Homo sapiens: one gene and its partners. The protein of the gene in region 1 purifies or fractionates together with the protein of each later gene. This does not show direct contact. Each region holds a gene or a part of one and is shown in the gene's direction. Other genes may lie near its edges.

Region 1 (4,032 bases):
TCTCATCAGGGCTCTGGGAGGCAGAGGAGGGGGTGCGCAGAAGGCACTGTCCTGGCCAGAGCTCTCAGAGGCCCAGCTGCATGCTCTGGTGTCCAGCTCTGGGCTCAGGGCGGGGTGGGACCACAGTCTGGGTGGCTGGGGCTGCAAGACTCCGAGGTGAAAGGTCACTCCTGGAAGGGCTTGTCCAGCCGGTTAAAGGTTAACCTGCCCAGAGCCAGAGGCTCGCCAGCCCGGGCCTCGCATACAAAGGGTGCTTAATAAATGCTGGTCGGGCGGGCCCCAGCCCCGGTACTGGGGGATGGGGTGAGTTGGAGGTGGCGGCAGCTGCGAGGCTCCAGGGCGCCTGGAAGAGACATCTGCAGTCCAGCCGGCCGCCAGGCCAAGCCCTTTCTGCAAAGCACAGAAAGAAAAGGAAATTAAAAGGGAAAAAGGGGCAGGCCCCCAGACAGGGCATGCCTGTCGCCTCCAGCCGCGCGGGGCGGGTGGGCGCCCTGCCCCCGGAGGCCAGAAATTCTGCAGAGGGGCCCCCTGACCTCGCGGCCCCGGCCAGCCGGTCTCAGACCACAACATCCCTTCCCCCTGGAGATTCCGGGCACCAGGTGTTAACCCGAGCAGAGAAAGGGTGGGGTGGGGGTCAGACGCGGCGACTTTCTGGAAGAGGAAGCAAACACAATCTAGGGTGTGTGTGTGTGTGTGTGTGTGTGTGTGTGTGTGTGTGTCTGTCTGTCTCGCGCGCGCGTGTGTCTTGCGCAGGGGCGTACCCCCCCCCCGGGTGCCACTGGCCCCCCATCATTGCTTTGCCAGGAACTGTGGGGTGGGGAGAGGTTCCGAGGGGCGCCTCGAGGGTGATCGAGCGACCCAACGTCCAAGGCCAGAGGTGGAGGGGAGGGCCTTGGAGAGACATCTTGGCGAGGCTCAAGGAAGGGCAGAGGGCAGGCGCGGCTGAGGCTCCCGCCGCGGCCCGGCAGGGGTTAAGGCCCGAGCTGGGCGAGGGCGAGGGCGGGGGTGCGGGGGGAGGGGCAGAGGGAGGCGGGGGAGGGTCAGGCCCCGCGGCCCAGCGCTCGGCCCCCGTCCCTCCCGCCGGCCCGTTCGCCCGGCGCCGCGCGCGGCCACCCATGCCCTTATAAGGGCGGCCGTCGCCGGGGCAACGAGCGCCCGCCCCCAGCCCGCGGCGCGCGCCCCTGCCCCCGCCCCCGCCCCCCGCCCGCCCCGCGAATGGAACGCTGTGTGTCAAACCGGCCGCAGCGCGAGGCCGGCGCGCGGGGTCGGTGGCGGTGGCGGCGGCGAGAGCGAGGCTTGGGCCCAGGCGCAGGCCCAGGCCAGGCAGGAGCGGCCGCAGCGGGGGCGGCAGCTCCAGAGGCGCCGGCCCAGCGGCCCTGCAGGCCCGGAGCGGCAGCCGCGGGCGCCGGGGGACCCAGGGGGCGCGGCGATCAGCCCCGGCGCGCACCCGCCGCCCCTCCCCCCCCGCCACGGGCGGCCGCGCAACTTGCGGCCAAACTTTCCCCCCGGCCTCCCGCGCTCGGATGGCGGCCCGCTGAGTTGGCCGCAGCCCCCGGGCGAGCGGCGGCCAGGCCAGAGGACGCCCCCTGCGCGGCTCGGGCCGGGCCATGGCCCGCGCGCCCCCGCCGGGGCCCCAGGGCGGCGGGACGCGAGTCCTCTGGGCCCCCGGCCCGCGCCTCTAGCGTGCCCCTCCCGGCCCCGGGCCCGGCCCCGCGCACGCGTGGGAAAGTTGGCCTGGAACCGGCCCGACCAGTTCCGCCCGGGCGCGAGGACCGGCCGCAGGAAGTTGCTGCAAAACTTTTTTGGGGGGTGCAGCCCGTGCCCCCCGCGCGCCGGGGCCGAATGCGCGCCGCGTAGGGTCCCCCGGGCCGAGAGGGGTGCCCGGAGGGAAGAGCGCGGTGGGGGCGCCCCGGCCCCGCTGCCCTGGGGCTATGGCCATGGTGACCGGCGGCTGGGGCGGCCCCGGCGGCGACACGAACGGCGTGGACAAGGCGGGCGGCTACCCGCGCGCGGCCGAGGACGACTCGGCCTCGCCCCCCGGTGCCGCCAGCGACGCCGAGCCGGGCGACGAGGAGCGGCCGGGGCTGCAGGTGGACTGCGTGGTGTGCGGGGACAAGTCGAGCGGCAAGCATTACGGTGTCTTCACCTGCGAGGGCTGCAAGAGCTTTTTCAAGCGAAGCATCCGCCGCAACCTCAGCTACACCTGCCGGTGAGCCCCCCATCCGCGCGCCGCCGCCGTGCACCCCGCCCCGACCTGGGGCAGGCCTCTGACCTGCTCGGTCACCTTGGGCCTGGCGCTGACCTTCCCTGGGCCTCCACTGCCCCCTCTGAGATAGGGGCACAGCACCCTCCTCCCGCATTCCATGGCTGGGATTGTGTATACAGTCGGCGCTACATCGTTGCAGGTTCCCCCCCCATCAGGTGGTCCCTGGAGGCTTTTGCCCCAGTTACTTGCTTCTCCTTCCCTCCGCTTTTTCTCTGGGGAGGGGTCATCTCCGCGCTGGGGTGGGGGTAGGGGTGCTGTCAGGGGTGGTAACCCAACCCCAGGGCACCCGTTCTCGGGGATCCCGGCGCGCGGGATGCCCTCGAGGGAATCGAACGTGGAACTTGGACCGTGGAGCTCGCAGCGTCCAGGGGCCATTGTCTGCGGCCGCGCGGATCGATACGGCGCGCCCTTGGGGTCAAATATCACTTCCAAAGTCGCTGTGGCTACGGAGGCGGCAGACGGAGGGAGGCTGGGGTGGCACGGGGCGGCCTTCTTCGCATGAGGGGCCCAGCGGTGGGGGTGGGGGTGGGAGCTGGGCTTGCCCATCTCAGGGAACCCCTCTGGGCTCACTCTGGGCCTTGGGTCACCGGAAATCGCCACTGGAAGGCCGGCAGGGCCACCGGAATTGACTGAAACGTCCCTCTCCCCCAGGGGTGGGTGCAGACCTGGGGCTCCTGGAAAAATCCCTCAAACTTTGGGTGTCTCTGAGACGGGCAGGGAGTGAAACGTTTCCGAGCAGGAGCCTTGGGCTGTCCCAGGTCGGAGACCTCTCTGGCAGGGCGTGGCCTTGCTAGCTGTTCTGGCGGAAGGTCCCCAGGGAAAGCGATCGGGGTTGTCCAGCCCGGGAGTTCTTTTCTCACCGTTCCCGGGCGAGCATCCGATCTGTCCGTTTATAAGCCCCTACTCTGCACCCCAGGAACATGCAGGGTCTCTGTGGAGCCCGTCTAGACGGTCTCAGTTCCCAGCTGCCCAAAACAGAGGCCCAAAGGCCCAGAGAGAGGTCCTGGTGCCTGCTTTGCGTTGGACATGGAGGGACGCTGCCCGAGTTGGGGGCACTGTGGGGGAACTGTGGGGCTAGGGTGGGGACCGCTGAGTTCGGATCGGAGTGGCCCCAGGGAGAACGGCTGATGGAAGGCTTGTTGGCTGAGGCCACCAAATAGGGCCCCAGGTACCCGAGGGTGGAGTTTGGCCCCAGGTCCCGGGTCAGGGCTGGCCTGGTGTGGCCATGTGTGGCAGAGCTGCCTTGCTCCCTCCTCCAGCACAAAGTGGGCCACTAGACTTTGGCCTCATTCTTGCTGCTGGAAAACCGCCTGCTCTCTGGTCATATCTTTAGGGAGGGTAAGGGAGGGGGGCTCAGGCAGTTTTGGGGTCCCAGGAGCTTCCTGAGGGTGGTGTCAGGGAGCAGCAATTTTGGGTGGGGGGGGCCTTGCTTGGAGCTGACAGGTTTGTGCTGTGTCAGTTGTGTGACCTGGTGAAATCACCATTCCATTCTGAGCTTCAAATGGATTGAGCAGGGTCTCGCTGGGGCCCAGCCTGGGTAGTTTGATGCCAGCCCCTCCAGAGAGACCCCAGCTCCAAGTCTAGCTCCTGAGAAGCCCCCAGTCTGGAGGAGACACAGTGAGACAGATGCCCCAAGTCTGTGGGATCTGGGGTCCCAGGGAGAGAGCAGAGGCTCTGCCTGGAGGTCAGAGAGGGCTGCCTGGAGGAGGCTAGGGGACATGAGCCTTGAAGCATGGAGTTGGCAGGTGGAAGAAAGGCCACAGGGA
Region 2 (3,500 bases), on another chromosome or scaffold:
ACAAACAACAGCTACTGAAGTGGGAAGGTGTTCAGACTCCTTTTTTTAACCTCCTCTGGGGCAGATGGGATGGACTAGAATTGTCAAGAAGGCCAGTTCAGTGAGCAGCATTAAAAATAGCAGACTAGCTCAATCTCTCAATATAAACTTAGTTCTCACAGGAACTTTGCAATTATCACATGCTTCATATGTTGCTATATGCATCTATGCCTTCTAGATAAAGTGCACACAGATCTTCCTATGACTTAAGCACAATAATAATCCATTTTAAAATCTTGTTTGTCATTTGTTTCTGAAGAAAAAGGAAAAGTCATTATCTGAGGGGCTTCAGCATTACAAAGACAGATTTGATCAAGGATTTTCATAAGGAGGAAATCTTTGGAATGAGGATATGTGTGTGTATCTGAGGGGTGGGGTGGCTAGAGGTGGGTACATATGGAACCTAGGTCATCCTTGCAAGTACCCTTAGCCTGTCAGCTCTCTCATCTAAATTCTCCTTTATCAGCTGTGGCTGGCACATAGTGCCTCACCAGTATTTGCTCTTGCAAAACATATATACTTAAGCATTTCTAGTTAATTTCTTAGAAGATATCTAGCAATAGCCTAGGAAATTGTGACCTTTATTTTGAATATTTACCATCATTTTCTGATGTCTCAGTTTAAATGCTTAAAGCTGTGTTTTAATAAGTAAAAGTGATGAGACTTCAAAAACCAAAAGTGACCATGATGGCCAAAGAATTTTTGACAACCACATGACAGCACAGTAATAGTTCATATGAATAATAGTTAAATTAGGCTGGGCGTGGTGGCTCATGCTTATAATCCCAGCACTTTGGGAGGCTAGGGTGGATGGATCACTTGAGGTCAAGGTTTGAGATCAGCCTGGCCAACATGGCAAAACCCCGTCTCTACTAAAAATACAAAAAATAGCCAGGTGTGGTGACGTGCGCCAGTAGTCCCAGCTACTCGGGAGGCTGAGGCAGGAGAATCACTTAAACCCAGGAGGCAGAGGTTGCAGTGAGCCGAGATCGCACTACTGTAGTCCAGCCTGGGTGACAGAGTGAGACTCCATCTTCCACCCACCCCCAAAAGTAATAATAGTTAGGTTACATCTAATAATGACAGATAACATGTAGTGAGTAGTTACTCTATGTCAAGCACTATTTTTTTATATTAACTCATTTAATGCTCATGAGAACCATATGAGAGATTATCTTATTGTCACATTTTTAAAGACAATAAGCTCAAAAGAATAAATTTGGCAAAAACCACACAGGGATTGGTGTGTCCAATGTGCTCTCATTTGCTGTGCCAGTGTCTTTCTCATTTTTTCAAACCATGAATGATAGCAAGAAGTAGATTTTCATTATGAGTCACCACTCAAATATCATATAGGAGTACTGAAGTCAAAAGAGTCAAAAATAATTTCCCTTACTACATAACATGAATTCAGATATTGTCTCTTCCAGTCTCTGTCACTTTTAATATTTGCTGGTCAAAGTTCACTGAGTTTTGAGGTCAAGAGTTCGAGACCAGCCTGACCAATATGGTGAAACCCTGTCTCTACTAAAAATACAAAAAAATTAATGGGGCACGGAGGTGTGTGCCTGTAGCTCTAGCTACTTGGGAGGCTAAGGCAGGAGAATCTCTTGAACTCGGGAGGCAGAGATTGCAGTGAGCCGAGATTGTTCCGCTGCACTCCAACCTGGGCAACAGAGCCAGACTCTGTCTCAATAAAGGAAAGAAAACAGTTCACTAGGTTAACTTCACAACATACTAACAGGCTTCAACTTACTGTCTGAAAAATTGGTTAATGGGTACAAAAACACACTTACGTAAAAAGAATAAGTTCTAGTATTCGATAGCATAGTAGGGAAATTATAGTTAAAAATAGTCTATTGTATATTTCAAAATAGCTAGAAGAGAAGAATCTTAATGTTCCGACACAAAGAAAACATAAATATTTTAGGCGGTGGATATCCCAATTACCCCGATTTTATCCTCATACATTATAAACATGTATCCAAATATCTCCTGGATCCCCAAAACTTGTATAACTATGACACATCAATAAAAATATCTGTTACAAAAAAAGAAAAATGCAGATACACAGAGTGCAAAAGAATAAATACCATTGAAATAAAACCATAAGCATGTGACATTTGGGAGCAATAAATTCAAGATGGAATGATATGCATGCATGTATGGTGAAGATTAATTATTATAGAAAGTCTGGGTTGGGAAGGAAGGGCTTCTCTAGGTTTTGCGGTAGATGAGGAAGACATCAGTCATGGCAAACATTCTCTTATTTGTGGAGGATGGGTTTATAATTAAGGAATTTGATCTTAGTATCCTTCAATGCACTCTAGGACTTCATTTGTATGGTTGACCTGGTATTGTCAGTGCAAATATACTTTCCCATAGTGCTGAAGTTTGAAAAAAAAAATTAAATTAGGTTAACAAAAATATGAATTTCTCCCTTTGTGATCTTCTACAGGGTGTTTTGAATGCTGTATCAAATGCCTGGGGGGCATTCCCTATGCCTCTCTGATTGCCACCATCCTGCTCTATGCGGGTGTTGCCCTGTTCTGTGGCTGCGGTCATGAAGCGCTTTCTGGAACTGTCAACATTCTGCAAACCTACTTTGAGATGGCAAGAACTGCTGGAGACACACTGGATGTTTTTACCATGTAAGTCACTCTAGTATTTCTTGTTATTTTCCATGTATATATTTACACTTCTATGTGTTAAATGATTAGGGGCCTACAGTTAGATGAGGTGATAATATATATGAAACAGCACTTTTAGGGTATACCTGATTCAAAAGGGTAATCATGATTCATGATTGCCTTCACAGTCAATAGAAGGCACGTAGCACAGGATCAGAGGCCGACTTAATCAGGACTTAACCAATGCTTTAAATGTAAAGTTGTATTCGAAATTTGGTTACCATTAAGTGGAATTCTGGGACTTCCCTTGCTCTTCTCATTTGAACAGAGGCTGTTCTATTAGAATAGTGCCAGGTACAAATCTGGCCCTTGCTACTAATTTTAGGAAAATCAGCAAAGCTCCATGGGTGCTCCCACCTTTAAAAGAAATAAACTCAGCCCTGGGTATGGTATCTTACTGTTGCTGTTACATTTACAGAAATGATGTAAATATTGTGCAAAGTTCTTATTGTCTTCTGTAAAAGAGTAAATCATAAGAAATCAAGCAACCTTTTTTTTCAAACACCAATTATACTTTTCTCTCATAAAATGTAAAACTCCTAAGATCACTATGATTATGTTAAAATAACTTTTTTAGAAAAGTAACTTAAACAGTCTGAAAATTAAAGTTTGCTGTTGAAATTTCAGCTCCTTATTGCATAATATAGAGAACAAAGGTTTGGGATTGAATTCTAGAAACGTTTATTGCTAAATAAGTTACTAATTCAGATAATTTATTCAGTGATTTTTATGCCCATGAAAAGAAAATAATTTATTAGTTTGTTTGTAATC
Region 3 (3,500 bases), on another chromosome or scaffold:
ACCTGTGATGAGGACTGGGGTGCACACGTGTGCTGAGGACACCCTCCAAGGCCGGCCCCGGGGCTCAGACAGGCAGGCTGGGGCCACATCTGAGCCTCCTGGTTTTAGTGCATTCACTCTGGCGCAGACAGACCATGGCTGAGCGTGTGGTCCCGAATTCCATCCTTGGAACAGAGGAAGTTTTTGTTATGAGAAAGAACTCCAGCCACAGCGGATTTGCACCTGCAGGTCTGTGTCTTGCGACACTTAAGGGCCAGGCTGGACGGGCCCCCACAGAGGTGGAGGAGTGGCCGGCTCTGGCCAAGCTGCCAGACACCACCAGGGAAACAGGTGCACCCACAGAGCTTCTGTGCCTGCTGAGGGGCTGGGAGTCGTAGCCTCAAGGAGCAGGCTCATTTTGTTGCTTTCTGCTTTAAGGTGGTTTTTCTTCTGGTTGGATGAGAAAAGTTAGTTGAGCCCCCCACGGATTGACTCAGCAGCTGAGTATGTAGAAACTGGCCTGGTCCTGGGGCCAGCATGTGAGCCATCCCCCACCACCCACAGGCCTCCCAGGAGGCCCTGCTCCCGCAGCAGAGCGGCCGCTGTCACCGAGGCAATGGCCAGATCAGGAATTCCAGGACCCCCGGGAGGGTGGGACACTGCGGCTCCACCGGTCCCTGTGTCTATGGAATCGGTGTCAGCGGACATCCCGTTCATGGTGGGATATGCCCGTAGGTGTCGGGCAGATGGGGGAGTTTCAATACCGGCTCCTTTAGGGGGTCTCAGTTTGGAGGAAAAAAGCCTTATTTCCTTGATGATGGTTTCATTCCTTAAGAACGCACTAGAATCTGCCCCTTAGTAGCTGCCTGTGGTGTTTCTAGATTCGGGGGCAACGTTGGCTTTGTGGTTCGTTTTTATTTTATTTAACTGTGAACGCCCTTTTACTCCCTGCATTGAGGTGAGACAGAGGACACGGCTCTCAAGGAGAGGAAGAAGTTGTTGGGATTCCCAGGCTTCATGAGGCCGGGCTGTCCCTGAGCCTGAGGCGACCTGCAGGGCTGACTGATTTCTATCCACTGAGGAAGGTTAGGATTCAACCTCAGCCTCACTTTGTGCAGCCGCCATGTTAGACATGCCGCCACAGACCACGGCACCGTTGTCCCTCCCGAAAGTGCTGTCCTGGGCCCGGCGGTGCAGCCCCTGGCAGCTTGCGAGGCCCGGGCTGCCCGCCTCTCCCGTGGCACAGGCTTGGGGACAGGGTGTGCCCGAGCCAGTGGCTGGCTCAGGAGGCCACAGAGGTGCATTTGCCTCTGCTCCAGGCGAGCTTGGGCGGTTCTGGGAGGGCCTGGGGACACAGGGTGACGTGGTGGGAGGGCGCTATGGCCTGTCAGCCTTTGATCTTGGGGCAGGTGGTTCTGCCTGCCTGCCACAGAGGACGGGGTCCTCCATCCCCTCGCGAGCTCCTGGAGGCCACGATGCTCCTGGGGACACCTCCCCTTTGGGAAGGTGAGGGCTGGGGCTGTCCCTGTTGCCAGGCTCTGGCCCTAGGAAGGAGGTTTGTGGCCCCAGTGACTAACGGATTCCCTTGTCTGCCTGGGAGTGTGTTGACCACCAGGGAGTAACCAGGGAACTGGACTCTCCGTGTGGCAGGAGGGGCATCTCCCAGCCTTCGAGCCTGATTGCTTTTCCAGTGCCTGAGCTGCACCCCTGGGATCCCAGCTTTCCCTTCCCGAGTCCGGGCAGCATCTGTGCTGGGCCCTGCTGGGACCTTCCTCCTCATGTGAGGCATGTCACGGCTGGCACTGGCCCCAGCCCGGGCCTCGGGTGTGGTGGGCCCACAGTGTGTCAGACCCTGGGTGTGGTGGGCCTCGGGCGTGGTGGCCTCGGGTGTGGTGGCCCTGGGCATGGTGGGCTTCAGGCATGGTGGCCTCGGGTGTGGTGGGCCCAGGCGTGGTGGGCTTCGGGCGTGGTGGGCCTCAGCTGTGGTGGCCTTGGGTATGGTGGGCCCGGGCATGGTGGGCTTCTGGCGTGGTGGCCTCGGGTGTGGTGGCCCTGGGTATGGTGGGCCTGGGCATGGTGGGCCCGGCCATGGTGGCCTCGGGTGTGGTGGGCCCGGGTGTGGTGGCCCCCGAGGAGGAGTGTGTCCTGGAGAACAGGCGGGTGCGTGAGAGCTCCCAGCTCAGCCACAAGAGCAACACATGCTGCCCACCCAGCCTCGCCTACCCTGCCTACCCTGAGACGCCTTGGCAGGACCTAGAAGCCAAGCCTGGGGTAGGGCCTCGGCGTTGCCTGCACGTGTGCCCAGATGGCTTCTTCGGAGCCCTGAGTGGGCCCCCGAGGCTGTGTGTCCACTTGGCCCAGGCAGGGCGCTCTGGACACCTGGTGATTCCAGGTAGAGAGTGGAGCCCAGGCGCCTGCTGGCTGTGCGTGCGGTGCCTGGAGGCTACAGCCAGCGAGGATTCATTTCAGAGAGTACAGAACAACTTTTTGTTTTTATAAACCAGCTCTTGAAGGTTGCATTTAAAAACTTGGGCTGACAGGGTCTGAGAGGATGTGTTTGCCTTTAGTAGAGTTTTGGATTTTGTGGCAGAGTGTCCGGGACAGTTGAGGGGGTGATGGGACAGATTCAGCTCCCAACGTGAGACCAACTGCACAGGTGCACATTGGGGCGACTCTGCCTGCCATGCAGCTCCGTGCACATCCGAATGACTGCGTTATTTCCTTGCACAGAAAACAGCCTTTCTCCTGGGCTGACACCTGTGCCCTGGGCCTGTGGACGCCCTGTCCAGGCAGCATGCCTCCTTGGTTATCCAAACAGTAAGAAGAAATGCAGGAACTTCGTGATCCACACGCGTGTGGATGACCCTGGCACACAGCGTTCCCGTTAAATTCTAAGTGTGGATAAGACGGCACACCGGACCACTCTTTCCAGAGCCTCTCCTTGCGGCTGCTAATAATGAAATACATCTTAGATGGCTTTTTAAACATAGCATTTAGGGTATTTGTTTCTCCTTTCAAAAGAGAAGAATCCCTTCCCAAAGTAGGCGAGCCGGAAAGGCCCAGCCTGGCCACTTTCCGCATGAGTGGCCACGACTTTGCTGGATTGAAAGGCAAAGGGAACAGGCCAGCTTTGGCCCCTTCAGCCTGGCCTGATCACTCCTTTACAGCCTGTGAATGAGGCAGCTCTGGGGAGGGGTTTGGGGTGGCCGGCCCCTTCCTGGGCTCTGGGGTCCATCAGATGTTTGTCCTTTGGGAGCCTGCCTGAAGTGCTGAGATAAAGCAGTTTTTAAACAGTTTCCCGCAGATGCCTTTTGGGAGACAGAGCCGTGAATTTCCTGAGCCGCGTCCTGGGATGGCTACAATGGCCGTCTGCCTGCCAAGCCTTCTCCCATTCAGGGAAAGCAGCTTAAGCCACTTAAGCCCATTAGCATCTGGATGGGGCCGGACCTCCTTGGGACACAGGGGTGGGCAGGGTGGCCCCGCTGTGTGGCTGTTTGGGTGCTTGTTCTAATCCTCACGCT

Evidence for each region.
Region 2: the proteins of NR2F6 (region 1) and GPM6A purify together in Homo sapiens (affinity purification with mass spectrometry; one large-scale study listed by BioGRID and IntAct). This does not show direct contact.
Region 3: the proteins of NR2F6 (region 1) and INPP5A purify together in Homo sapiens (affinity purification with mass spectrometry; one large-scale study listed by BioGRID and IntAct). This does not show direct contact.

What each region holds. Positions count from the first base shown.
Region 1 is NC_000019.10:17,243,120-17,247,151, reverse strand, and holds the start of NR2F6 (nuclear receptor subfamily 2 group F member 6), read left to right. Parts: upstream 1-1,232; 5' UTR 1,233-1,931; coding exon 1,932-2,209; intron 2,210-4,032. UniProt on the Homo sapiens protein: Transcription factor predominantly involved in transcriptional repression.
Region 2 is NC_000004.12:175,700,765-175,704,264, reverse strand, and holds part of GPM6A (neuronal membrane glycoprotein M6-a), read left to right. Parts: intron 1-2,497; coding exon 2,498-2,690; intron 2,691-3,500. UniProt on the Homo sapiens protein: Involved in neuronal differentiation, including differentiation and migration of neuronal stem cells. Plays a role in neuronal plasticity and is involved in neurite and filopodia outgrowth, filopodia motility and probably synapse formation.
Region 3 is NC_000010.11:132,743,787-132,747,286, forward strand, and holds part of INPP5A (inositol polyphosphate-5-phosphatase A), read left to right. Parts: intron 1-3,500. UniProt on the Homo sapiens protein: Phosphatase that specifically hydrolyzes the 5-phosphate of inositol 1,4,5-trisphosphate to inositol 1,4-bisphosphate, and inositol 1,3,4,5-tetrasphosphate to inositol 1,3,4-trisphosphate. Plays a crucial role in the survival of cerebellar Purkinje cells.